Regions from separate parts of the Homo sapiens genome. Here region 1 is linked to region 2. The links come from fine-mapping of genetic effects on gene expression. A gene starts in region 2. The other region holds a variant in brackets. All regions are shown on one strand. Distances are from middle to middle. Region 1 has its middle 18 kb from the start of SLC1A5. Region 2 holds the start of FKRP (fukutin related protein).

What was found. PIP is the estimated chance that this variant, and not a neighbour inherited with it, causes the effect.
Region 1: its variant is fine-mapped to the expression of FKRP in hippocampus (GTEx, PIP 0.95).

Annotation. Positions count from the first base shown.
Region 1 is chr19:46,803,503-46,808,874 of GRCh38, reverse strand. No RefSeq gene overlaps it. Among named protein-coding and RNA genes, the nearest start is that of SLC1A5, 18 kb to the right of the region's middle. The variant G/C (reference allele first, on the strand shown) is at 3,137.
Region 2 is chr19:46,743,156-46,748,527 of GRCh38, reverse strand. It overlaps FKRP (fukutin related protein), which reads right to left and starts at 2,471. Exons shown (of 4, transcript NM_024301.5): 1 at 2,438-2,471; 2 at 440-501; 3 at 1-13. It overlaps STRN4 (striatin 4), which reads left to right and starts at 2,078. Exons shown (of 18, transcript NM_013403.3): 1 at 2,078-2,379. The coding sequence starts at 2,098. RefSeq lists silencers at 1,653-1,702, 1,743-1,842, 1,883-2,032, 2,043-2,092, 2,303-2,532.

The sequences.
Region 1 (5,372 bases), 60 kb before region 2:
AAAAAAAAATTTAAAATTAGCTGGGTGCGGTGGTGCGTGCCTGTAGTTCAGATGGCTGAGATGGGAGGATCGCTTGAGCCCAGGGGGCTGCAGTGAGCTGCGATTGCGCCACTGCACTCCAGCCTGGGTGACAGAGTGAGACCCTGTCTCAAAAAATAAATAAATAAATAAATAAATAAATAAATAAATAAATAAATAAAATTAAAATTAAGGGAGTGAGCAGTGTAGAACCTTCCAGGCCATTTTCCAAAAGTTGGCTTTTGCTTTCTCTTCTTGAAGATCCATTTGTGTCTCAATGTGTGCTGTGCCCAGTTCTCAAGAGCAGATTGCTACACTTTTGGGAATTTCACAAACCAGTTGTTAAACATAGGTATTATTAACAATTAAATGATACAAAGTTACAGATAAATAAATTATGTTAAAAACAAATATAATAAATAGTTCAAATGCATTGCATCCTAATTGCTACATTTTTACTATTATCTATGCTCTCCAGGCTACTTATCTCTGCCTGGTGGAAATCCTGAGTGATAGTGGGTGGTTGCTTGTCTCTTCTGAATTCCACATCCAATGACATCCTATCAGTAACTAGAAATCAACCACAGTGGGAATATTTACACTGTAGAAATTGGCAAATGGTATAAATTAGGGCTGTTTCTTCCCTAGAGAGCTGGTGGTTAAATTAAAAAAAAAAAAAATATATATATATATATATTGGCTGGGCGCAGTGGCTCACGCCTGTAATCCCAGCACTTTGGGAGGCTGAGGCAGGCAGATCATGAGGTCGGGAGATCGAGACCATCCTGGCTAACATGGTGAAACCCCATCTCTATTAAAAATACAAAAAATTAGCTGGGCGTGGTGGCGGGCACCTGTAGGCCCAGCTACTCGGGAGGCTGAGGCAGGAGAATGGGGTGAACCTGGGAGGCAGAGCTTGCAGTGAGCTGAGATCATGCCACTGCACTCCAGCCTGGGCGACAGAGCGAGACTCCGTCTCAAAAAAAAAAAATTATGTATATATACACACACACACATATGTGTATATATATATATACACACACACACATATGTGTATATATATATATACACACATATATACATATGTGTATATACATACACATACACACATATGTGTGTGTGTATATATATATACACACACATACATACATATATATATATGGATGATTTTGCTCTGTTACTCAGGCTGGAGTGCAGTGGTGCAATCAGAGTTTACTGCAGCCTCGACCTCCTGGGCTCAAGCGATCCTCCCTCTTCAGCCTCCTGAGTAGCTGGGACTATAGGCACGTGCCACCACACCCAGCTAATTTTTGTATTTTCTTTGAGACAGAGTCCAGCTCTGTCGCCCAGGTTGGATGCAATGGTGTGATCTCAGCTCATTGCAACCTTCACCTCTTAGGTTCAAGTGATTTTCATGCTGCAGCCTCCCAAACAGCTCGGAATACAGGCACGTACCACCACACCTGGCTAAGTTTTGTATTTTTAGTAGAGACAGCGTTTTGCCACATTGGCCAGGCTGGTCTTGAACTCCTGGCCTCAAGTGATCTGCCCACCTTGGCCTCCCAAAGTGTTGGGATTACAGGCATAAGCCACCACACCCAGACAAATTTTTGTATTTTTTTGTAGAGACAGGGTTCTTGCTATGTTGCCCAGGCTGGTCTCAAACTCCTGGGCTCAAGCCCTTCTCCCACCTAGGCCCCCCAAAATGCTGGAAGTACACCATGCCCGGCCTGGTTAAGTATTTACCAGCACGCCAGTGCAATGCCTGTAAACGTGGCTCATTCTTTTCTACAGCTGTCTAGTGTTCCATAGCATGAATGGCCACAACATATTTTGCTGGTTCCTTCCTGGTATGTGCTTAGTTTGCTTCTAGTCTTTTGCTACTGCAAGCAGGGCTGTGGTGATTTTTCGCATGCAAGACAATAGCCGTGGAATAAATCCCTCAGAGAAGAACTGCTGTGTCAAAGGGTGTGGGAGGATCTAAAATTAAGGCCTTTTGCCTAATGGCTTTCCAGGGAGGCCGTACCAACTTCCACACCCACCAGCAAATGTGTGAGAGTGCAGAAGCTTCTAAACACAAACTTGATTGTGTCACTCTGCTGCTTAGACCCTTTGATGTTCCCCACTGATCCTGCATGAAGCCCTTCTCCCTTCAAGATACGATCCGGTGTTGGCCGGGTGCGGTGGCTCACACCTGTAATCCCAGCACTTTGGGAGGCAGAGGCAGGTGGATCACCTGAGGTCAGGAGTTCAAGACCAGCCTGGCCAAAATGGTGAAACCCTGTCTCTACTAAAAATATAAAAATTAGCCAGGTGTGGTGGCAGGCACCTGTAATCCCAGCTACTCAGGAGGCTGAGCTCAAGAATCGCATGAACCCGGGAGGTGGAGACTGCAGTGAGCTGAGCTCTTACCACTATACTCCAGCCTGGGCAACAGAGTGAGACTCCATCTCAAAAAAAATAAATAAAATGAAATTTAAAAAATGGCCAGGCGTGGTGGCTCACACCTGTAATCCCAGCACTTCGGGAGGCTGAGGTGGGTGGATCACCAGGTCAGGAGATCGAGACCATCCTGTCTAACACAGTGAAACCCCGTCTCTACTAAAAATACAAAAAATTAGCCAGGCGTGGTGGCGGGTGCCTGTAGTCCCAGCTACTCGGGAGGCTGAGGCAGGAGAATTGCTTGAACCCGGGAGGCGGAGGTTGTAGTGAGCCAAGATTCACCACTGCACTCTAGCCTGGGCAACAGAGCGAGACGCTGTCTCAGAAAAAAAAAAAAAAAAAAGAGTAAATTAAGCTATGATACGGGGTTGGAAAATTACAGCAATCTGGGAACAAAAGGAAGACAGTACTGGTGCCTCAGTTCCCCAGCTTAATTTTCCCTTTGACCTAGTGAATTCGGGGTCCTGAGATTCTACTTTGCTTTCACAATAGTCACGGCTTCTCCCTTTCTCTTGCAACTGAAAGGTGGCACCATGACCTCACCATGACCCCTTATAAATTTTGCATGGCAGCCACCCCGATGATCTGCTGTCTGTCCCCTGGAATGGGTCGTGTTCCTACTCACTTTTACACGGTCCCGCCTTTCCCCCTTCCATGAACCCTACTTCCCATTGCC[G/C]TATCAGTGGGCTGAATCCACTTGTCCCTTCCCTGGGTACGTTTGGTCTCTTTCTGTTTCAAGTGGCTGAAAACCTGATTGTAACTCTTCAGCGACATCAGGAATCGATGGGCTGGCTTCAGGCATAGCTGGCTCCAGGAGTTTGAACGCTGCCATGAGGCCCAGCACCTGGCCTGTCACTTTTGTCCTCTTCCACGTTATCACCTTCAACAGTGCATGCCTCTGTCAGGCTGTGTGTGTGTGTGTGTGTGTGTGTGTGTGTGTGTGTGTGTGTGTGTGTGTTTTGAGACAGGGTCTCACTCCAACACCTAGGCTGAAGTATAGTGTTGCAATCACAGCTCACTGCAGCATTGACTTCCCAGGCTCAGCTTCCCGAGTAGCTGGTACACAGCTACTATATTTTTTGTAGAGATGGGGTTTCGTCATGTTGCCCAGGCTGTTCTCAAACTCCTGGGCTCAAGCAATCCACCCTGCATAGCCTCCCAAAGTGCTGAGATTACAGCTATACTCAGGAGGCCGAGGCGGAAGAATTGCTTGAGCCCAGGAGTTCAAGGTTGCAGTGAGCTATGATCATGCCACTGCATCCCAGCCTGGGTGACAGAACGAGATCTTGTCCCTAAAAAAAAATTAAAAATTTTAAAATAATCATAAAAAAGAGAAAGAAAAAAATGTGACTCTCTCAATTAAGCTGTGAGACCTTGGCCAAGTCACATCACCTGTCTGTACCTCTGTTTACTCAGCTATAAAATGAGGATATTAATAGGACCCATTGGTTTGCTGAGAAGCTGTACCTCTGGGCTATAGTAAATGTTCGATAAACATTAGTTGTGGAGTCCTAATTCGGGAAAAGGAATCAGGCTGGCAGGACCAGGGGAAAGCGAAAAGATAAAGCAAATAAGTTTTTTTTTTTTCTGGTGAAACCCTGTCTCTACTAAAGATACAAAAATTAGCCGGGTGTGGTGGCATGTGCCCATAGTCCCAGCTACTCGAGAGTCTGAGGCAGGAGAATCGCTTGAACTTGGGAGGTAGAGGTTGCAGTGAGCCAAGATGGCACCACTGCACTCCAGCCTGGGCAACAGAGCAAGACTCCATCACAAACAAACTAATCTATCTATCTATCATCTATCTATCTATCTATCTATCTATCTATCTATCTATCTATCTATCTGTATGTGTGTATTGGTGGTGCACACCTGTAGTCCCAGGTACTCGGGAGGCTGAGATGGGAGGATGACTTGAGCTCAGGAGTTAGAGGCTGCAGTGAGCTATGATCTCACCACCACACTCCAGTCTGGGTGACAGAGTGAGACCTTGTCCCTTAAATAAAAATAATAATAGTAAAGTTTTTTGTTTTTTAATTGGCATTCGGGCCGGGGGCAGTGGCTCACACCTGTAATCCCAGGTGTGAAGCGTTCCATATTAAAATATATATATACAAAATTAGCCAGGCATGGTTGGTGGATGCCTGTAAATCCCAGTTACTCGGGAGGCCAAGACACAAGAATTGCTTGAACCTGGGAGGCAAAGGTTGCAGTGAGCCGAGATTGCGCCACTGCACTCCGGCCTGGGTGACAGAGTGAGACTCCATCTCAAAATAATAATAATAATAATAATAATAATAATAATAATAATAATAATAAATTGGCCCTTGGAAGAAAGCAGTTGTGTGGAATGTGTGTTGCTGATTTTCTCAGGCCATATGAGGCCCCCCACCACGGGGCTTTGGTGGTTGGAAGCATAAAGTTCCCAGGTCCTGGCCTCTCTCCTGGCTGTTTCATTCATTGGCTGTGGGACTTTGAGACATGGTTGCCTTGTCTGTGTCAGGATGGGATTAGCCTCCTCGGTTTCATGGGCCTCACTGGAGCCTCAGGTGTGCTTCTCACTGGAGCCCCTTTGCCCTGCCCCTCCCACCCCCAAAATGCCAGGGCTCTTCAGCTCTGGGAGGACTTTGTCCAGTTCCTGTTAATCAGCACCTACACTGCTCCTCACTCTGGGCTAAAGTGCAAATTCTAACACCTCTCAAATCCAGGCCCCAGGCCTCACACTTCTCTCAGAAAGGAGAAGTGGAGGTGGGACCTTTCATTAGCTAGTTTATTCAAGGGATGTCTAGGCCCAGGCGTCTGAGCTGGTAGCAGTGCCTCCCAGACTCAAAATGTCCTGGTCCTTCAGGCCAACTGCCCTCAGGGGTGACACCCACATAATCACTAGGAATGTGCTGTGTGATTGTATACTCTCA
Region 2 (5,372 bases):
TCAGTCCCTGCACCTGTGGAATGGGAATGTGACGGTTAGAAAAAAATGAGAGGGCTGGGCGCGGTGGCTCACGCCTGTAATTCTAGCATTCTGGGAGGCCGAGGCGGGCGGATCACGAGGTCAGAAGTTCGAGACCAGCCTGCCAACAAGGTGAAACCCCATCTCTATTAAAAATACAAAAAATTAGCCGGGCGTGGTGGCAGGTGCCTGTAATCCCAGCTACTCGGGAGGCTGAGGCAGGAGAATCGCTTGAACCAGGGAGGTGGAGGTTGCAGTGAGCCATGACCGCGCCACTGCATTTCAGCCCGGGCAACAGAGCGACACTCCGTCTCAAAAAAGAAAGAAAGAAAAAGAAAAAAATGAGAGACATGGGAAAGCCTTAAGGAATGAGGAAGGGCAGTTTCCATGAGAGTGTAGGTGACACTGAGGGACTTCTTACCTCCTAGGTTGTAGGCTGGGGGAGTTCCAGGAGGGCAGTTCCAGCCCAGCTGAGCTGCGCTCCTGAGAGGAGGAGAACCAGAAAATCCCAAATCAGCCATTTCCGTACAATAGAGCACAATTTCATCTTATCCACAAAAGTGGCAAGAGAAAGGTCAGGGAATCCTTTCTCTTGAAGTCCTATAATCTCGGGCACCACCTGGGGTGTCTCAGGAGTGGGGTGGGGTGAATGGGAGGGATGTCAGTTATTATAGCAACCTATAACCATCCCTCTAGCATGAATGTGTCCAGAAAAGGTAGGGCTAGAAGCCAACAGAAGCTGTTACCATGACAACCCCTTCCATAGACACACTCTACCTCTGAGAGACATTCTTAAAACATCCCCTGGCCGGGCGTGATGGCTCACACCTGTAATCCCAGCACTTTGGGAGGCCGAGGCGGGCCTGAGGCAGATCACCTGAGGTCGGGAGTTCAAGACCAGCGTGACCAACATGGAGAAACCCCGTCTTTACTAAAAATAAAAAAAAAATTAGCCGGGCGTGGTGGCGCATGCCTGTAATCCCAGCTACTTGGGAGGGTGAGGCAGGAGAACGGCTTGAACCGGGGAGGCGGAGGTTGTGGTGAGCCGAGATTGGGCCATTGCATCCCAGCCTGGGCAACAAGAGTTACACTCTGTCTCAAAAAAAAAAAAAAAAAAAAAAATCCCCTCCTTTGTTGGGCTTGGTTCCTAGGGTCACTCGAAGGGGGCTGCTCTATTATCATAGTAACCAGGCCTTGAACTTGCCTGTTTCTCACCTTCCGGAGGAAGGTCCAGGCCCTGTAACCATAGCAACTGCCCCTCAGCAGAGCATCTCCTCTAAATAAAAACACCTGGTTAGTTTGGTGCATGGGCCTCCCACGATGGGAAGGGGAAGACGGTTACCATGGTAATGCCAACTAGGTGGCTATGGGGGAGGGGCTGGGGAAGAGGTGCTTCTCTTAGAGATCAGTGTCCTTGGGGCTGGGGTCCTTTCTACCTGAATGCTAGGTGGGGGGGAGGTTGCCATAGTAATCAATGAGGATAGGAGCAGAAGGACCACCACGGACACTTAGGTTACCTTAGCAACCTTCTCCTGGTGCAGAGTCCTAAGAGGTTTGGGGCTCCATAACCACAAAGGTGGAAGCGAGGGGAAGGCTGCTCCCCACCACCTCGCCCCCACCGCTGGGGAAGGGTTACCATGACAACCAACCTGGCCGGCAATCAGAGAGGATGGGGCCACTGCTGGTCGCCCTTTCTCTCAGAGTAAAAGTAATTGTCCAGGAGAGTGGTGTTTGGGTGTGGAAGGGGTAAGGCTCTTTCTCTGGGGCGAAGTGGGAGGAGGGGGGCAGAAAGCGGCCCCTTCCTCAGTCTCACTCCAGCGAGGGGGACCGTCGCGCGGGGCCTGGGTCTCCCTCGCCCTCCTCGGGGCGCGATCTCCCACCCGCCGGCCCCCGCGCGGGCACGCTACCCTTCGGTGTAGACCCGGGTGGGCGAGGCTCGCGCTCGCCGCCGGCCCCCCTTCCTACTGTCCCCCGCCGGGCGCGCGCGCGGTGGTTGCGGCGGGGGAGGGGGGGGGGTGTTGGCGCGGCCGCGCAGGCGCGCGAGGCACAGCGGGCGCGCAGGCCGGCCCCGGGGCCTCCATGATGGAGGAGCGAGCGGCCGCCGCGGTCGCCGCCGCCGCCTCCTCCTGCCGTCCGCTCGGCTCAGGCGCGGGCCCTGGCCCCACTGGGGCGGCCCCGGTCTCCGCCCCTGCCCCCGGGCCGGGCCCGGCAGGTAAGGGAGGCGGCGGCGGAGGCAGCCCCGGGCCCACGGCGGGCCCGGAGCCCCTGAGCCTGCCGGGGATCCTGCACTTTATCCAGCACGAGTGGGCGCGCTTCGAAGCCGAGAAAGCCCGCTGGGAGGCCGAGCGCGCCGAGTTACAGGTGAGCGCTGTCCCGGGACCCCCGACCCCCAACCCGGCCCGGCCCGGCCCGGCCTCACCCGCTGCCGCCGCCGCCGCCATCTTGGAGCAATGGCCGCCGGGACGGCCGGCGGGGGGGCGGGAGGGGACCGCGACGGTCCCGGAGGGCGAGTGAGGGGCCGTCCGAGGGGTGTCCTGAGGGCACTCCGGGGTGGGACGGGACCGGGACGGCCCGAGGTGGGAGTGGAGGGACCGGGGGTGGGAGGGATCACCGGGACCGGCCGAGAGAAAGGGGCGGAGGGACCACAACCAGCTGGGAGTGGGACTGGGACTGGGACTGAGCACGCTGGCCGCGGGGCTCCTGAGAGAGGCGACTCGAGCCCTGGAGGGGAGGCTAAGAGAACTCGGGAAAGGGTGTGGAGAGGAGCTGGAGGGGTCTGGGAGACCTGAGTGGTCTCCTGTGGGAGTAAGCAGAAGCTTGCCGGGCGCCGAGGGACTCCCGACCCCGACCCCGACCATGGCCCTAGCCAGGTGCAGGTTGGAGGTGGGAGCGTCCAAGGGGGGAACTTGGGACCCGCTGGGAAAGAGCGGGTCCAGATGGGGAACCGGGAGGATTTAGGGAGAGGAAGTCGGGAACCTGGGATCGGTGTGTTTCGGGGCGACTGGACGGTGGGCACGGAAGGAGGGCTGTGTAAGGACCCGAGGGGTGGGAGGAGGGTTTCAAGGGGTCCAGGATGAAGGTGTGTGCCTTCCCCTCTGAGGAGAAACTTTGGGGATCCCGGGCATGTGTGGCTGCACAGTGCAGGGAAGGGTTCTTTGGAGTGGAAGTGTGGACAGAGCAGGGAATGTACCCTAGGAGCCTGGATGGGAGAGCTTAAGAGTGGAAGTTCCACTTTGGGGGTGTGCAGGAGTGGGCGCGATGGCACTGAGATGGCACGTGTGTTGTAGGATGTAGGTAGAGAGCCCTGAACTGGAGTGTGGGGTGTTGGGCATGTCCAGTATGGAGGTGAGGGTCCTGGGATGGTGCCAATGAGGACGAGTTAGGGGTTACCCTGGGGTGATGCTTTAGGGGGGAGAATTTTGTAGAGCCCGAAGGCAACATGAGGAGGCATCTCGGAACGGGGGTAGACTGGGGTTGGGGGGAAGGGGATATGTTTGTGGAAGTCTTGGGAAAAGACCCCGTGGTTTTTGGGGTAGCTTGGGACAGGGATGTTGAATGGAAGAGTCTGAGGAGTTGGGCTAGGGTTTGTGACCTCGTGGAGCGTCAGGTCCATTGGCAGTGACTGGAGGACCATGGAGATGTCCGGATTTGAAGGGATCAGGAATGGCCCGCTGGAAGTCTGAAGATTCTTGGACTGGGTTATTATTAGCAGAAATTGTCATTACCTGCTTGTAGCAGCCCACCTTTCCCCTTCCGATTTGCCGTTTGCTATCTAGTAGGAAGCTGGTACCCAAATAAATAGCTGATGAGAATTGTGTCGGTAGGGATGGGGTGCGGTGGCTCACGCCTGTAATCCCAACACTTGGGGAGGTTGAGGTGGGAGAATCCCTTGAGCCCAGGAGTTCGAGGCCAGCCTGGCCAACATAGCAAGACCTCATCTCTACAAAAAAGTACAAAAATTAGCCGGGTGTGGTGACATGCGCCTGTAGTCCCAGCTACTCAGGAGGCTGAGGTGGGAGGATTGCTTAAACCCCGGAGGTTGAGGCTGCGGTGAGCCATGATTGCACCACTGCACTCCAGCCTGGGCAAAAGAGTGAGATCCTGTCTCAAAAAAAAGCATTTTGTTCATAGGATGAGTAAAGACCCTCCAGTAACTCTCCCCCTGCCCTCACTTGTGGTGGCTGAGGCTTGGGGCTGGGATGGGAGCAGAATCCTTATGTAACTGCTCTCACTTCTGTCCCACTCTCTACTTCCGAAGCTCTTTCCCAGCATACATCTCATCAGATCTTCACAATGCCCTGTGATGTAGGCAGAGGCAGTGTCATTACCTCACTCAGCAATAACGGTACCAGCTGCAATTTAGTGAGCACATACCATGTCTGGGGCGCTGTATCAAGTACTGTAGATACGAGCTGTCATTTAATTCTTGCAGCATTCTGGGAGGATAAAGGATATTCCCCCTACCTTTAAAAAAAATCAGGAGAGGAAATGGAGGTTTTGAGAGGGTGATTTATCTAGGATCCCAGCAGATGAGCAGAAGGGCTGGTCTGTGGTGGACCTTTTGTTTATTTATTTATTTATTTATTTATTTTTATTTTTATTTTTTTGAGACAGAGTCTCACTCTGTCACCCAGGGTGGAGTGCAGTGGCATGATCTTGGCTCATTGCAACCACTGCCTCCCAGGTTCAAGCGATTCTCCTGCCTCAGCCTCGCAAGTAGCTGGGATTACAGGTGTGCACCACCACCACGCCTGGCTGATTTTTGTATTTTTAGTAGAGATGGGGTTTTGCCACGTTGGTCAGGCTGGTTTCGAACTCCTGGCCTCAAGAGATCCACCTGCCTCGGCCTCCCAAAGTGCTGGGATTACAGGCATAAGCCACCATGCCCGACCGTCGGTAGACTTTTAAGCCCATGTTCTGTACCTCTCTGCTACCCAGTACAGTTGAGAAAATTGGTTCAGGCAAGCATAGTGGCCTCCCCAGGGTCACCCAAGCAGTCATAGCAGAGCTTGGACTGAATCTTGGCCTCTGGGACTTTGCACCAGTGCACCGCACAGCACCCACCACACCATCTTCTCATCCTGGAGGCTGATGAGAGAAAAGATGTTTATCCCCTCACTTACTGACCCTTCTTGGAGTTTGAGAGGAACTTGTGTCTGGCATGGTACCAGCACTGTCACTTTGTACTTTTGTTTTCTTTTATTCTGTTAAGTTAGTAAAAATTCAGACATCTCAGAGGGGTGTGTGTGTGTGTGTGAGTGTGTGTATACACATATATATGTAAGTGAAAAAGGAAAGTTCCTTCTCTTCGTCCCTTTCCTGCTCTTCTCTCCTGAGAGAGAAGAGTTATTGTG